2 separate regions of the Homo sapiens genome follow, and region 1 is linked to region 2. A link means that fine-mapping ties the variant in region 2 to the expression of a gene that starts in the linked region. Tissue or cell type: thyroid. Region 2 holds a variant in brackets; the other region holds the start of a gene. All regions are shown on one strand. Distances are between the middles of the regions.

Region 1 (8,000 bases), 96 kb after region 2:
TGTTCCAGCCTGAGCAATATTGCCAGACCCCGTTTCTGCAAAAAATACAAAAGCTAGCCGGGCGTGGGGGTACATGGCTGTGGTCCCAGCTACCCAGGAGGCTGAGGTGGGAGGATCACTCGAGACCACGAGGTGGAGGCTGCTGTGAGCCAAGATTGCACCACTGCACTCCAGCCTGGGCAACAGGGTGAGACCGTGTCTCTAGAAAAAACAAAAGCCAAAAGGATGGCATTTGGTATTAACAAGATCTTAACAAGATCTGGGGAGTTGGGCTATGGGAACACACACCTGGGGGGCCTAAGACCTTCCAGAGACCATGGTGCTTGAGTAAAGCTGAAAGGAGCTCGCAGGCCCAGACAAGTGGTAGTGTGTGTGCGCTTGGTTGCGAGACACCATGTGCACAAACCTGGAGGCACGGTCGTCTTGTGAGAGTGTGGAGGTCAGCTTGGCTCATTAGAAACCAGGGCCATGGCCAGGCGCGGTGGCTCATGCCTGTAATCCGAGCACTTTGGGAGGCTGAGGCAGGCAGATCACCTGAGGTCAGGAGTTCGAGACCAGCCTGGCCAGCATGCTAAAACCCCGTCTCTACTAAAAATACAAAAATTAGCCAGGCGTGGTGGCAGGCGCCTGTAATCCCAGCTACTAGGGAGGCTGAGGCAGGAGAATCGCTTGGACCTGGGAGGCAGAGGTTGCAGTGAGCCAAGATCGCGCCATTGCACTCCAGCCTGGGCGACAGAGCAAGACTCCGTCTCAAAAAAAAAAAAAAGAAAAGAAAAAACAGGGTCAGTGGCAGCGACGTGTGGCTGGAGGGAACAGAGAGCCCAGACCGCACGGGCTTGGGAGCCTGTGAATCCACTTGGGCCTGTGGTGAGAGAGGAGGAAAGTCCCGGAGCTTTCTTCAGGAGAGGGTCCTTCCGCAGGAGAGGGTCCTTCCGCAGGAGAGGGCCCCATGGCTAGTGAGCTCCATGTCTAGGCTGACACCAGTATCCAGGCAAAGGCAAGGGTGGCCCGACCCAAGCAGTGGCAGCAGAGGTGACAGAGAGGAGGCTTTGGGTGCAAGGTGGTTGGCTGGGCTCAGCAGTGAGAGGGTGAGGGGGACGGGAGGCCCTCTCTCGGTGCTGCTCTTAGCTGCTGGGAGTATGATGGGAGGGCCAGTGAGATGGGTGTGAGGAGGAAGAACAAATATATGGTCAAGATGAGCTCCAGTCTGGACATGTGGGGTTGCAATGCCCCAGGGACATCTAGGGGATGACGCCCAGCAGCTCCACTGAGGTGGCTTTTGGCTGGAAATGGAAGTTTGGGAGGAGTCCCCACCACATAGCTGGCGGCTGAGGCTCTGGAAGGGAGTGAGGTCACCCGAGGAGGGCGTGCAGAGGCTCCTCACTGTCTTCTGGGAAGTAAGGGTTGCTCCTCACACGGAGGTGCGGGGCCTGACATGGGCGGCCTGCCATTTGCATTAGCCGGTGGCAGCCAACAGGTGCCTGTTTTGGAGAGAGGTCCAGGGAGGAGAGATGAGCAGGGTGCCGTTGGTGACATGGCCAGTCATTTCAGGAGCTGCCCCAACCCCAGACTTGCCCCAGCAGTCCGGGACCCCACTGTGACCAGGCAGATGCTCGAAGGAGTCAGTGGCTCTCTTACCCAGTGCAGATTTCCCTGGAGTTCCCTGCGGGTGACTTAGAATGGCCACCAGAGGCTTAGGATGCTGCCCCAAAGAGGGAGGGCTCCTGGAAGCAGAGTCGAGAGAGTCAGTGCCGGGTTAGCGGGAGCTGGAGGCAGAGCTGCAGCTCCAGGCCTGGTGGGCGTGGACCTGGGGTGCTGGCTGGCAGGCGTGCTCAGGGGCAGGAAGTGGGGGACTCTTCCCTGACCATCGCATCTCACCCTGGCAGATGGTGGCCGACATGCGGGAGAAGCGCTACGTGCAGGAGGGCATTGGCAGCAGCTACCTGTTCCGGGTGGACCACGACACCATCATCGATGCCACCAAGTGTGGCAACCTGGCCAGATTCATCAACCACTGCTGCACGGTGCGCCAGGGGCCAGCCGGGGCAGGAGTTGGGGGTCGGTGGGGGTGGCCACGGCTCACACGCCCTTCCATCCGCAGCCTAACTGCTACGCCAAGGTCATCACCATCGAGTCCCAGAAGAAGATCGTGATCTACTCCAAGCAGCCCATTGGCGTGGACGAGGAGATCACCTACGACTACAAGTTCCCACTGGAAGACAACAAGATCCCGTGTCTGTGTGGCACAGAGAGCTGCCGGGGCTCCCTAAACTGAGGTGGGGCAGGATGGGTGCCCACACCCCTATTTATTCCCCCTGGTGCCCTGAGCTCCCAGCACCCCCCCAGCCTTAGTGGGCTCAGCAGGGCCCACATGCCCCCATCTCCAAGCGTGGGGTTGGGGGCCCCAAGCCCAGCGAGGGAGCCTCAGTCCCTGGAGGCAGCTTCTGCCTCTCCTGTCACCCCTGCCCACCACCCCCTGATTGTTTTTCTTTGCGGAGAAGAAGCTGTAAATGTTTTGTAGCAGCCAGCAGCTGTTTCCTGTGGAAACCTGGGGTGCCGGCCTGTACAGATTCTGTCCTGGGGGGCTACACAGTCCTCTTGCTTTGTGTTAATGGGGACTTCCCCTTACGCCCTGCGTGTACCCCTCCCCAGTTTAGGGGTCTCTGGGGCAGTGGCCATGTTCTCCCCCTGGGGGGGCTCTGCACCCCCAGTCCTGGGGACTCCGTGCCTGGAACCCTGCCTCATCTGTTCCTGCCAGACCCTGAGGGTCACCCTTCCACCCTGGTGTCACTCCCCGGCTCAGCCAGGCCAGGATGGCGGGGTGGGTCCCTTTTGCTGGGCTGGACTGTACATATGTTAATAGCGCAAACCCGACGCCACATTTTTATAATTGTGATTAAACTTTATTGTACAAAAGTGTTTGGTCGGTGTATTTGGGCAGGAGCGAGGGGTTGGGGGTAGAGGGCACGGAGGGTTGTGCAAGTTGAAGAGAGGGAAAAGTGGGTACCTGAAGTGTGGGGCAGGTAAAGGGGCCTTCAGGCAAGAGCCCAGACCTGCAGAGACAGTCCGAGACTGTCTCGGACCCCCTGACAGGCTGCAGCAGCCGCACCCGCACCAGGAATACCCCACCAGTGCCCGCCAGGGTGGTGCCAAGGTCAGGCCTCCCCTTCCTACAATCACAGCTGCAGCTGGACCTCCGGCCTCCTGGGAAGCCCAGCAGGAGGGAAGGCCTGAGGTCACACTGTGGGATGAGGTCACCGCTGGCTCCACCCACAGCCCCAGACCCCTTCAGCCCACTCTGCAAGTTCGAGCTTCATCCCCACCAAGTTCTCCGCTGGACCCAGATGCCAGTGGAGCACAGAGCGGCCGCCAGGGGGCGCCTTGGGGCAAGAGTGGTGGGGGTTGTGGCTGGGCGGGTCTCTGTTCCTGGAATGGGGCAGGAGGGAGAAGGAGGAGCCAGCGGAAGGACGGTGTGCGGGCCGGCCAGCCCTGGACGAAAGAAGAGGGCCCCTCCAGGCCAGTCTGGGCACCCTGGGATAGCGGCTGCAGGTAGGCAGAGGCGCTGCCAGTGCCCAGGTGGCCTTTCCCTCCATCCGGCCCTTCCCACCTTCCTATAACCTTCCCTCCACCTCCCTCAACTCCTGGCCTCCCCACCCTTTTACTGCCTTCAAATCTCTCTCCCTAAACCCTGACCCCTTCCTGCACCCCAAGCCCGCCCCTCTCTCCGTAACTCAGCCATCAGCAGGGGCAGACGGCAGGTGGCCTGGTTGCTGCAGCTCCCAGGATCAGCTCTGCCCTCCCCGCAAACGCCAGCCTCGTCACCGCTCCAGGGCACCTCCAGCAGTAACAGGTGGTTGCAGCAGGTGGCAGCCAGCCCCTGGATGAGCCAAGGTCTCTTCCCCAGCCAGGCATGGCCGACTCTGCACAGGCCCAGAAGCTGGTGTACCTGGTCACAGGGGGCTGTGGCTTCCTGGGAGAGCACGTGGTGCGAATGCTGCTGCAGCGGGAGCCCCGGCTCGGGGAGCTGCGGGTCTTTGACCAACACCTGGGTCCCTGGCTGGAGGAGCTGAAGACAGGTTCTTGTTGGGGGAGCTTGTGGTGGAGAGGGTGTGGACGCTTCCCCAACCCTTCCCAAGCTGGGATCCCCACCCCTGCAGTGGAACAGATGATGCTGGTTTCTGTCCACATGGATGGGTCGAGTGAGTCACATTGGGAACGTGACTCCAGGGTGGAAGATGAACCCAGCCTCTGGCCTCTGGCCCCAGCTCTGACATGGCCTGTGTCCTCCAACCCCGGCCAGGGCCTGTGAGGGTGACTGCCATCCAGGGGGACGTGACCCAGGCCCATGAGGTGGCAGCAGCTGTGGCCGGAGCCCATGTGGTCATCCACACGGCTGGGCTGGTAGACGTGTTTGGCAGGGCCAGTCCCAAGACCATCCATGAGGTCAACGTGCAGGGTGAGGAGCTCTGGACACTCCTGGCCATCTTGCCTGTTTGTTCCCCACTCTGTCTTTGGCCTTGACCTCCGGTGACTCCCCTGGGACAAGTTGTCCTATTGACAGCCCTGCCCCCGCCTCCCCTGACCTGTCATGGTTTTCCCTGGACCTGGGATGGGGAGGAGGAAGATGCAGAGAGGGAAGAAGCTGCAGCTTGGATACGCCTCCTCCTCTGCCAGGTACCCGGAACGTGATCGAGGCTTGTGTGCAGACCGGAACACGGTTCCTGGTCTACACCAGCAGCATGGAAGTTGTGGGGCCTAACACCAAAGGTCACCCCTTCTACAGGTGAGTGGCAGGCCCTCTTGTCCTCTAAGAGCCCATTTCCCTCAGCATTGAGTCTTCCTTCTCCTCCCACCAGGGGCAACGAAGACACCCCATACGAAGCAGTGCACAGGCACCCCTATCCTTGCAGCAAGGCCCTGGCCGAGTGGCTGGTCCTGGAGGCCAACGGGAGGAAGGTGAGCCCAGAAAAAGGAGGCGCAGAGATGGGGCTCCTGCCCTGCACACCCCCTTACCCTGCCAGCCCAAGGAGGCCGGGGCCGAGAGCAAGCTGTCGGGTCCCAGGTCTCAGCAGTACCTGCCTTTGCCACCAGGTCCGTGGGGGGCTGCCCCTGGTGACGTGTGCCCTTCGTCCCACGGGCATCTACGGTGAAGGCCACCAGATCATGAGGGACTTCTACCGCCAGGGCCTGCGCCTGGGAGGTTGGCTCTTCCGGGCCATCCCGGCCTCTGTGGAGCATGGCCGGGTCTATGTGGGTGAGGACTGGGCTAGGCAGGGGGAGGCTGAGAATATGGCAGGAGGACTTGCTCTAGAAGGGGGCAGGACCCACATGGCCCTGGGAGAGAAGTGTGGACTCTGGCTAGAAAAATATGGTCTATACATGGGCCAAGGTAGACTGTGATTATGTCTCCACAGCCTGCAGAGAATACAGGATCCATGCAAGTTGGGACATTAAAAAGTGTATCATAGGCTACAGAGAAGATTGCAGCTATGGGAGCAGCCATTCCCCAGGAGAGGAGAGGAGAGGGACAGTGTGTACACAGCACTAAAAGGGCTGGGTTCAGTGGCTCGCATCTATAATCCCAGCACTTTAGGAGGCTGAGGCGGGAGGATGGCCTGAGCCCAGGAGTTGGAGGCTGCAGTGAGCTATGACCGCACCACTGCACTCCAGCCTGGATGACAGAGACAGACCCTGTCTCTAAAACTTTTTTTAAAGGAAGTAGCATCTACACAGGGAATAAGGTCACCTGCCACTCCATCCTGCAGTCCCCAAGCCTCTCAGGGCCCACCACGCAGGTCCTGGTTTCTCTATCCTCTCCCCAGGTTCTTTGCAGATGCAGGCTGGCCCAGGAGAGCAAGTGACTACCAGGGCGAGGGAGAAGGCAGCCTTTCCCAGGCTGCTGTGGGGATGTGGGCGGCAACTACCTGGGCCCAAAGAGGGGGTGGCCCAGGAGAGCAGCCTCGATGTGGTGTTGCAAGGGCACTCAGGGGTGTGTCCGCCTCTCTTCCGCCACCGGCAGGCAATGTTGCCTGGATGCACGTGCTGGCAGCCCGGGAGCTGGAGCAGCGGGCAACCCTGATGGGCGGCCAGGTATACTTCTGCTACGATGGATCACCCTACAGGAGCTACGAGGATTTCAACATGGAGTTCCTGGGCCCCTGCGGACTGCGGCTGGTGGGCGCCCGCCCATTGCTGCCCTACTGGCTGCTGGTGTTCCTGGCTGCCCTCAATGCCCTGCTGCAGTGGCTGCTGCGGCCACTGGTGCTCTACGCACCCCTGCTGAACCCCTACACGCTGGCCGTGGCCAACACCACCTTCACCGTCAGCACCGACAAGGCTCAGCGCCATTTCGGCTATGAGCCCCTGTTCTCGTGGGAGGATAGCCGGACCCGTACCATTCTCTGGGTACAGGCCGCTACGGGTTCAGCCCAGTGACGGTGGGGCTGGGGCCTGGAGGCCCAGATACAGCACATCCACCCAGGTCCCGAGCCCTCACACCCTGGACGGGAAGGGACAGCTGCATTCCAGAGCAGGAGGCAGGGCTCTGGGGCCAGAATGGCTGTCCTTGTCGTAGAGCCCTCCACATTTTCTTTTTCTTTTTTGAGACAGGGTCTTGCTCTGTCACCCAGACTGGAGTGCAGTGGTGTGATCATAGCTCACTGCACCCTCAACCTCCTGGGTTCAAGCAATCCTCCTGCCTCAGCCTCCTGAACAGCTGGGACCACAGGTGCACGCCACCACACCTGGCTTTTTTTTGTTGTTTTTAGAGACAGGGTCTCACTATATTGCTCAGGCTGGTCTTGAACTCCTGGGCTCAAGTGATCTTCCCACGTGGGCCTCCCAAAACGCTGGAACTACAAGTGTGAGCCACCGCGCCTGGCCCAAGCCCTCCACATTTTCAATCCAGGAGCCTTGAGTCTGTGTTGTGTCCTGACACCTCCAAGTTCTAGGGCCGTCAGGACACGGGAGGGTTTGGGGACAGAGTGTCCTTCCTCTGTCCTCTCATCCCAGTCCTGATGGCCGCTTGGTGAGTGTCTGGTGCCCTGGTGGCCTGCCCCAGCTCTCTTCTGGCTTTCTGAGCAGGAAGCGAGCAGAGGCTCCACAGGCTTACGCTGCTCTCCTGACAGCCACACGCGACCCTCGGTGCAGAGTGCAGAGGCGGCTCTGGTTCCTCCAGCCACCTCAGTCCCTCTTTGGGAGGTGATGTTCCCATTGTTTTTCAAAGGCCTCACCTTCAACTGTCTGTCTTAGAATTCCCCTCTGGAGGGCTATGGCCTCCCTATGCTTTCACTTCCCACCTCTCTACCTAAGTTCCTTCCCAGCACATCGCCAGCCCTGGGCCTGGGGATGTCCCCAATGCTGTACCTGGCTGACCCCGGATTAAAAGCCTCATCCACGACCGTGTCCATCTGTCTGTCCAGCTCTCCCTCCCATCCCCCCACCCCATGTCCGCCTCCCCACGGCGCCCATCCCACGTGGGGACAGAAGGAAGTGAGCACACGGCACACCCGCTGTTGGATTGGTTGCTATTTCTCCCGTCCCACAGGGCCTGACCTGGCCCAGGGTGGGGTGGGGGGCTCTGGGGACAGGACATGCAGGGAGGAAGGGGGGGGCAGGATTTTCCTGTGTTTTATCCATTTGCAAGTTGGTCACCAATAGAAATGGGACTCTGAGGGCTAACAGAAATGGGACTCTGAGGGCTAACAGGAGAGGGCGGCCTGGCTCTGGGCCCCAGCCAGGCCCCAGGAGTCCTGTCCCCTCTGAGAAGGGGAGGGAGAGAGCTCTAGAAACCAACGGAGAAACAGAGAAGGGGGCAGGGGCTCATGTCAGCAAACACGGCTACATCACGTGACACGCCAGTGACACAGAAACACACGCCAACGCACACGGCTGCACAGCGGGCAGGGGCGGTTAGGGGAAAGGGAGCCGGGGCCACCCATCTTGTCCTCTGCAGGGCGGGCTGGGGGGCAGGGTGAATGCATAGAACACATCATGTGTAC
Region 2 (8,000 bases):
AGACTAACTTTGGACTTCTCCAGAACTGTAAGAGAATCAATGTCTGTGGCTTTTTCTTTTTTTTTTTTTTGAGATGGAGTCTTGCTCCATCACCCAGGCTGGAGTATAGTGGTGCGATCTCGGCTTACTGCAACCTCCCGGATTCAAGCAGTTCTCCTGTCTCAGCTTCCCGAGTAGCAGGGATTACAGGCGCCCGCCACTATGCCCAGCCAACTTTTGTATTTTTAGTAGAGACGGAGTTTCACCTTGTTGGTCAGGCTGGTCTCACACTCCTGACCTCAGGTGATCCACCCACCTCGGCCTCCCAAGGTGCTGGGATTATAGGCATGAGCCACTGTGCCTGGCTAATGTCTGTGGCTTTGAGCCCCTATATGTGTGGCAATTTGTTACAGCAGTGATAAGAAACAGTTACACTACATTGCAGCAAGCCTGGCTTCCCTGGACAGCACTGGCTCCACCAACACCACTGCAGCTGCTGTCGGAAGCATCCTTACATTTCCTTTGTTTGTTTAGACACAGGGTCTTGCTTTGTTGCCCAGATTTGAGCACAGTGGTGCAATCATCACTCACTGCAGCCTCAACTTCCCGGGCTCAAGCAATCTTCCCACCTCAGCCTCCCAAGAAGCTTGGACTACAGGCGCGCACCAGTATGCCTGGCTAATTTTTTCATTTTTGTCTTGCTTTGTTGCTCAAGCTGGTCTCAAACTCCTGGCCTCAAGCAGTCCTCCCACCTGTGCCTCTCAAAGGCCTGGGATTACAGGTGTGAGCCACCACACCTAGCCTACAGTTTTTAATGCTTCTTTAAAGTTCCAATTTGGTCCTCTCTGAACCTCAGTATCTTTCTTTATTAAAAATAAAAATAGGGCCAATATACATGACCCTATAGGCACAGAGTGAGAGGGCCTTATATTACTCGAAGCTTCCCACAAACCCCTGGGGCAGATGAGGCCTAGTTATTGTTCCCATTGCTCAGATGAACAAACTAAGGCTGAGAGTAGAAACAGCCTGCCTAGAGCCACTCAGGGAGTAACAGAGCCAGGACTTGAACCAGGGCTTCTGACTTGAGTTCTAGCACAGAGGTTCATGTCTCAGAGCCCAGCTCACATGCCACCTCCTCAGAGAAGCCTGCCTGGAAAACCCCAGCCCATTCATGTATTCATTTATTCATGAAGCAGCTGCTGGGACTGCCCTGTTCCCAGTGTTGTGTGGAGACCCCTCAGGAGCCCACAGCCTCGTAGACAAGACAGACACACAAACCACGGATCCCAGAACAGCCTGATAAATGATGAAACAAGGAGAATGAAGCCCAAGGGGTTGCTGGAGCTCAAAAAAGGGGAAACTCACTGAGCCTGGAGTCAGGGAAGGCTTCTCGGAGGAGATGGTGATTGAGATGGGGATAAGTTAGACCCAACCAGAAGTGTGGCCAGGCATCCCAGGTGGAGGAGTGGCTTCTTCAGGGCAGGGAATGGGTTGGTCATCCCAGGCCCCCAAGTCCCTCTGGGCCTCTGTGTTATTATGTATGAAACGTGAATAGGCTGGGCGCGGTGGCTCACGCCTGTAATCCCAACACTTTAGGAGGCCAAGGCAGGAGGAACACTTGAGCCCAGGAGTTCAAGACCAGCCTGGGCAATGTAGCGAGACCCCATGTCTACAAAAAATAAAATTAGCAGGCTGGGCATGGTGGCTCATGCCTGTAATCCCAGCACTTTGGGAGGCCGAGGCGGGCAAATCACTTGTGGTCAGGAGTTTGAGACCAGCCTGGCCAACATGGCAAAACCCAGTCTCTACTAAAAATACAAAAATTAGCCGGGCGTGGTGGCAGGCACCTCTAATCCCAGCTACTCAGGAGGCTGAGGCAGGAGACTTGCTTGAACCCAGGAGGCAGAGTTTGCAGTGAGGCGAGATTGCGCCATTGCACTCCAGCCTGGGCAACAAGAGCAAAACTCTCTAAAAAAAAATAGTGATAAATAAATAAATAAATAAATAAAATTAGCTGAGTATGGTGGCACACACCTGTGGTCCCGGCTACTTGGGAGGCTGAGGTGGGATGTCAAGGCTGCAGTGAGCCATGATCGCACCACTGCACTCCTGCCTGGGCAACAGAACAAGTCTGTGTCTCAAAAAAAAAAAAAAAAAAAAAAGAATCATGGCCTAGCTACCCAGAGTTTTGATAATTGTTAGGCCCAGGCGAGGGCTGAGCAGGAAGAGGGGTCCTGGGCCTCCCAGAGGAGGAGGTGAAGGTCGGGAGATAGGACAGACCTGGGAAGTACTGAGAGGCAGGGTCCTGGCTCAAGCCCCCACCCCACTCTGCCTTGTGGTGTCACTACAGGAAGGTCCTCTCAGAGCCTCAGTGACCACATCTGAGCAATGGTGCATGAGACAAAACTGTCTCCAAAGACCCTCCCCAGCCCTGACGGGGAAATGACATGACACAAAATTACAAAAGGGTCTTTATTTGTAAAAAGCCAAAGGGGCCCCTGGGGCAACAGGACAGGCAGGCCGGCTTCTCAGGGGTCAGGGGCATTTGGGCAGATGCGCTTGAGTGGGGGGGCACCCTCCGAGTCCTCTGTGTCACCCTGGGCTGCCTCAGGGACAGGTGGCACTGGCTCAAAGACAGGGTAAGCTTCGGGGGCCTGGAGAGGAAGGGTGGACAGGCGTGAGCTCCACAGAACCCAGGCGTCCAGCCTCTGAGCCTCTGCCTTCTCCAAAGCCTCCACTCCCCTCCCCTCCTGGGCCCGGGAGGCAAGCCCAGGGCCAGATGCCCAGGATGCAGAGGAAGCAGGCACCAAAAACAACAACGACAGTGACACTGTGTGGAGGAACGAACCTGATATTTGATATTTCTGAAAATGCCTCGAGGTAGCCTCGTGAGAAATGTCAGAGGTTTATAAGGAATTTTCTTATGCTAATTATACAGTTAGATATTTTTTGATATTTTTTGAAAATGCATGGAGGAGCGCCATGATTTTGTCAGGCTTTATTTATTTATTTATTTTTGAGAAGGAGTCTCGCTCTGTCACCCAGGCTGGAGTACAGTGGCGCGATCCTGGCTCACTGCAGCCTCCGCCTCCCGGGTTCAAGCAATTCTCCTGCCTTAGCCTCCCGAGTAGCTGGGACTACAGGCACGTGCCACCACGCCCGGCTAATTTTTGTATTTTTAGTAGAGACGGGGTTTCACCGTGTTAGCCAGGATGGTCTCGATCTCCTGACCTCATGATCCACCCGCCTCCGCCTCCCAAAGTGCTGGGATTACAGGCGTGAGCCACCACGCCCAGCTTTGTCAGGCTTTTAATGGTCTCAATCAGCCCTGATCCAGCCCTCAGCACTTTGTCTCTGAAACACCCTTTCTTTTTCAGTCCCAAGAACCCAGCCCCTAAGCCTTCAGCTCTGTCCCAGGTCTGCCTCTCCTCCAGGCCCTCAGGACGCAGGCTCCAAGCCTTCGACTGCCCAGATCCCCCATTCCCTCCAAGACCCAGGAGTCCAGCCTTCTGGCCTCTCTCACCTCAGCTTCCAGCAGTTCTGGAACAGGCTCCTCCTTGGTCAGCATTGGGGGTTCGTCGGTGCTGCCAGCAGTTATGCCCCCGGGATCTGGAACGTCAAGGTAACAAACATCCCCTGAACAGCCACTCTGTGCCAGCAGCACAGACAGTGGGGGAAACAGATGGTCACAGGCCCCAGTCACAGAGGGCAGAGGGCCATGGGAGCAGAGAGGAGAGAGCAGGAACCTGGCTGTGCCCCAGGAAGCAGAGGAGGGAACACTGATGTGGGAGCTCGAGGGTGATGCGGTGGACAGGAAAGTATGACACGTGAGACAGAGGGAATGCATGCTAAGTTGCCACAGATTCTGGGCTTGGACTGCCTGGGTTCAAATCCTGACCTTGGGCCAGCTACTTCATTTCCATGGGCCTCAGTTTCCCCATCTGTAAAATGGGGATAATGATAGTAATTACCTCATGTGGCTGTTGTGAGGGTCAGATGAGCGGATGCAGGTAAAGCACAGTGGCTGGCACACAGTAAGTGCTCAATAAATGCTTGCTACCATTTTTATATTAGCAAAGGTATACAACTGCTTGGCACTGTCTAGACCCAGACCCAGTCCACAGGCCCACATCAGGGTTTTCTTTTTGTGTGTTTGTTTGTTTTAGTTTTTGAGACAGAGTCTCGCTGTGTCCCCCAGGCTGGAGTGCAGTGGCGCGATCTCGGCTCACTGCAACCTCCGCCTCCCAGGTTCAAGTGATTCTCCTGCCTCAGCCTCCCTAATAGCTGGATTACAGGCATGTGCCACCACGTCCCGCTGATTTTTTGTATTTTTAGTAGAGACAGGGTTTCACATTCTGGGAGGCTGAGGCAGAAGGATCGCTTGAGCCTAGGAGTTTGAAACCAGCCTGGGCAACATAGTAAGACCCTGTCTCTATAAAGAATAACAACACTAATTAGCTGAGCATGGTGATGCATGCCTGTAGTCCCAGCTACTCAGGAGGCTGACTGAGCCCAGGAATCCAAGGCTGCAGTGAGCCGTGATCACGCCTCTGCATTCCAGCCTGGGCGACAGAGTGAGACCTTGTCTCAAAAAAAAAAAAAAAAAAGCAAAGCTTAAAAAATGAAGGAAAAAGTTGTTCTGGCAGCTGTGTGGAGGTGACTAGAAGAGACCAGCTGGAACCAAAAACGGGTGAGAAATGGGAAGGCCAGGGACAGGGAGCCTAGGAGGAAGAGGTGCCAATCAGACGGGTTTGACTGCATGGAAGAAAGCAGAGCTGGCTGGGCACGGTGGCTCAAGCCTGTAATCCCAGCACTTTGGGAGGCCGAGGCAGGTGGATCACGAGGTCAGGAGTTCAAGACCATCCTGACCAACATGATGAAACCCCGTCTCTACTAAAAATACAAAAATTAGCCGGGTGT[G/A]GTGTTGTGCAGCCTGTAATCCCAGCTACTCAGGAGGCTGAGGCAGGAGAATTGCTTGAACTTGGGAGGCGGAGGTTGCAGTGAGCAAGATCGTGCCACTGCACTCCAGCCTAGGTGACAGAGTGAGACTCCATCTCAAAGGAAAAAAAAAAAGCAGAGCTGATGAGGACACAGGCCCAAGATGCTGGCTCACTGGCTGAGTTACTTCTCTGGGTCTCAGTTTCCTCATCTATAAATAGGGATCATAACAAGATCATCACCCTTATAAGGTTGTAGTAAAAATTAAATGAGAAAAAAACACGTAAAGTGTTGGCTGGGCACGGTGGCTCACACCTGTAATCCTAGCACTTTGGGAGGCCGAGGCGGGCGGATCACCTGAGGTCAGGGGTACGAGACTAGCCAGGCCAACATGGTGAAACTCCATCTTTACTAAAAATACAAAAATTAGGCCAGGCACGGTGGCTCACGCCTGTAATCCCAGCACTTTGGGAGGCTGAGGCAGGCGGATCACCTGAAGTCGGGAGTTCGAGACCAGCCTGGCCAACATGGAGAAACCTCGTCTCTACTAAAAATACAAAATTAGCGGGGCATGGTGGTGCATGCCTATAATCCCAGCTACTCGAGAGGCTGAGGCGGGAGAATCGCTTGAACCCGGGAGGCAGAGGTTGCGGTGAGCTGAGATTGTGCCATTGCACTCTAGTCTGGGCAACAAGAATGAAACTCTGTCTCAAAAACAAACAAACAAATAAACAAAAAAAACAAAAATCAGCCGGGCATGGTGGCATGCCTGTAATCCCAGCTACATGGGAGGCTGAGGCAGAAGAATCGCTTGAACCTGGGAGGCAGAGTTTGCAGTGAGCCAAGATCGTACCACTGCTCTCCAGCCTGGGCAACAGAGCAAGACTTCATCTCAAAAAAAAAAAAAAAAAAGGCTGGGCGTGGTGGCTCGTAATCCCAGCACTTTGGGAGGCCAAGGCGGGCAGATCACCTGAGGTCAGGCGTTTGAGACCAGCCTGGCCAACATGGCGAAACCCCAACTCTACTAAAAATACAAAACCAGCCGAGCATGGTGGTTCATGCCTATATTCCCAGCTACCCAGGAGGCTGAGGCAGGAGAATTGCCTGAACCCAGGAGGTGAAGGTTGCAGTGAGCCAAGATTGTGCCGTCGCACTCCAGCCTTGGCAAGAGCGAAACTCTCTCAAAGAAAAGAAAAAGAGAAAAGAAAAAAACCCAACCACGTAAAGTGTTTACCAGGGCACCTAGCACACAGTAAGAGCTCAATAAATACTAGCTGTTGTTATTCCTATTATTGTTAATCACCCCTATGACTATCACTATTATTTATTCACTCAACAGATATTTACTGAGCACCTACTATGTGTCCCATATTATTCTGAGGATACAGTAGTGAACAAGATCACATAGGGCCAGGCACAGTGACTCACGCCTATAATCCCAGCACCTTGGGAGGCTGAGACAGGAGGATCATTTCAGGCCACGAGTTCAAAACCAACCTTGGCAACATAGCGAGACCCTACCTCTACAAAAAATTTAAGAATTGGCTGGGCATGGTGGCACACACCTGAGTCCCAGCTATTTGGGAGGCTGGGGCCAGAGGATCCCTTGAGCCCAGGAGTTTGAGGCTGCAGTGAGCTATGATTGCACCAGAGTACTCCAGCGTGGGTGACAGAGACCTTGTCTCTAAAAAAAAGGGGGGGGAGGGCCGGGTGTGGGTGTGATGGCTCACACCCGTAATCCCAGCACTTTGGGAGGCTGAAGGTGGAGGACTGCTTGAGCAAGTGAGTTTGAGACCAGCCTGGGCAACATGGTGAAACCTTATCTCTACAAAAAATACAAAAATTAGCCAGGTGTGGTGGCATATGCCTGTGGTCCCAGCTACTTGGGAGGCTGAGGCGGGAGGATCGCTTGAGCCCAGGAAGTTCAAGGCTGCAGTGAGCTATGATCACACCACTATACTACTCCAGCCTGGGTGACAGAGCGAGACCCTTTCTCAAAAAAAAAAAAAAAAAAAAAAAAAAAAAAGGATCAATATGGGCCCAACATTCAGGAAACTGACATGAGAGTGAGGAGAAAGATAAACTAGTAAAAAATTAATTTACATGAAAATCTCAGACAGTGATATGTCTGTATAGATTCTAAGAGACCAGAGGAATGAGACTGTAGCTACAGGGAGATTCTGCAGGAGTCGGAAGGCGCCTTGAGGAGGGTGCACAAGACGGGGAGCAGGTATAGGGATGAGCTGGTAGGTTAGACTCTGGAGAAGACAGGACTTAGAGGAGAGAGCTCCTGGGAGGTACCTGGTCCTACCTCTCTCTTGGCCCAGCCGTGGGGGCTGAGCCTCCTCAGGGACCCCTTCTGGGGGTCCGGCAGGTGACACAGGGCGGCTGGGCTGGGGGGTGCCCCCAGGACTGGGCTCTGTGCCCTTTTGCAGGGAACCTTCCGAATGGAAACTCTGGTTGCTGTTCTCATCTGCGGGAGCAAGAGCCGAGATGGTTGGCCTGAGATCCCTAGTACACTCCTTCAGTCCCCACAGCCCCCCGCGTTTCAGGATCCCTACCTACCATTAAGATCCAGCAGGATGAGAGGGCCACCCCCTCGGGGACTGGCGCCCCTGCCCCGACGTTCCCGGCCACGGGATCTCTCTGCCCCGCCACCTGCCCGCCTTCGCTCCTGGGGGTTAGAGGATTAGGGTCAGAGCTCTTGGAAAGCCCCACCATACACCTAAGGAAACTGAGGCACTGAGAAGCAAAAGGGCTCAAACTCAGGGGGTGTGGAGCAGAAAAGAGGGCAAAAGGGGAGGAGCTGCTAATGATGGTTCCCGTCTGTCCTGCTGCATCTGAGGTCTCGGGGAGCTGGAGGTAGAGGTCAGCGTGGGGAGGAACTTGCCTGAGGTTGCACAGATGCAGGGCCTTGTGGGAATGGGGGTTGCTCACCTCCTCCTGGGGATCCACCACTGGCACCCACTTGAAGATACGAAGGGAAGTGTCGCCCACAGTCACCCATCGCTTCTCCCTGTGGGAGGGTGGGGGGCTGGGTCAGAGAGGCCTGAGGGGAGACCCACCCCCCTAGGAGCTGGACA

The links. PIP is the estimated chance that this variant, and not a neighbour inherited with it, causes the effect.
Region 1: it holds the start of HSD3B7, and the variant in region 2 is fine-mapped to the expression of HSD3B7 in thyroid (GTEx, PIP 0.94).

The regions. Positions count from the first base shown.
Region 1 is chr16:30,981,749-30,989,748 of GRCh38, forward strand. It overlaps HSD3B7 (hydroxy-delta-5-steroid dehydrogenase, 3 beta- and steroid delta-isomerase 7), which reads left to right and starts at 3,459. Exons shown (of 7, transcript NM_025193.4): 1 at 3,459-3,549; 2 at 3,905-4,076; 3 at 4,301-4,456; 4 at 4,675-4,783; 5 at 4,857-4,956; 6 at 5,092-5,254; 7 at 6,020-7,399. The coding sequence starts at 3,911. The coding sequence ends at 6,435. It overlaps SETD1A (SET domain containing 1A, histone lysine methyltransferase), which reads left to right. Exons shown (of 19, transcript NM_014712.3): 18 at 1,887-2,024; 19 at 2,102-2,916. The coding sequence ends at 2,275. STX1B (syntaxin 1B) reads right to left here. Exons shown (of 10, transcript NM_052874.5): 10 at 7,508-8,000. RefSeq lists enhancers at 2,928-3,440, 6,286-6,785.
Region 2 is chr16:30,885,358-30,893,357 of GRCh38, forward strand. BCL7C (BAF chromatin remodeling complex subunit BCL7C) reads right to left here. Exons shown (of 6, transcript NM_004765.4): 2 at 7,855-7,933; 3 at 7,483-7,591; 4 at 7,229-7,390; 5 at 3,503-3,588; 6 at 2,438-2,633. The coding sequence ends at 2,508. The region is part of intron 2 of MIR762HG (MIR762 host gene); the gene reads left to right. Among named protein-coding and RNA genes, the nearest start is that of MIR762, 4.5 kb to the right of the region's middle. RefSeq lists enhancers at 2,099-2,600, 7,677-8,000, 7,848-8,000. The variant G/A (reference allele first, on the strand shown) is at 4,900.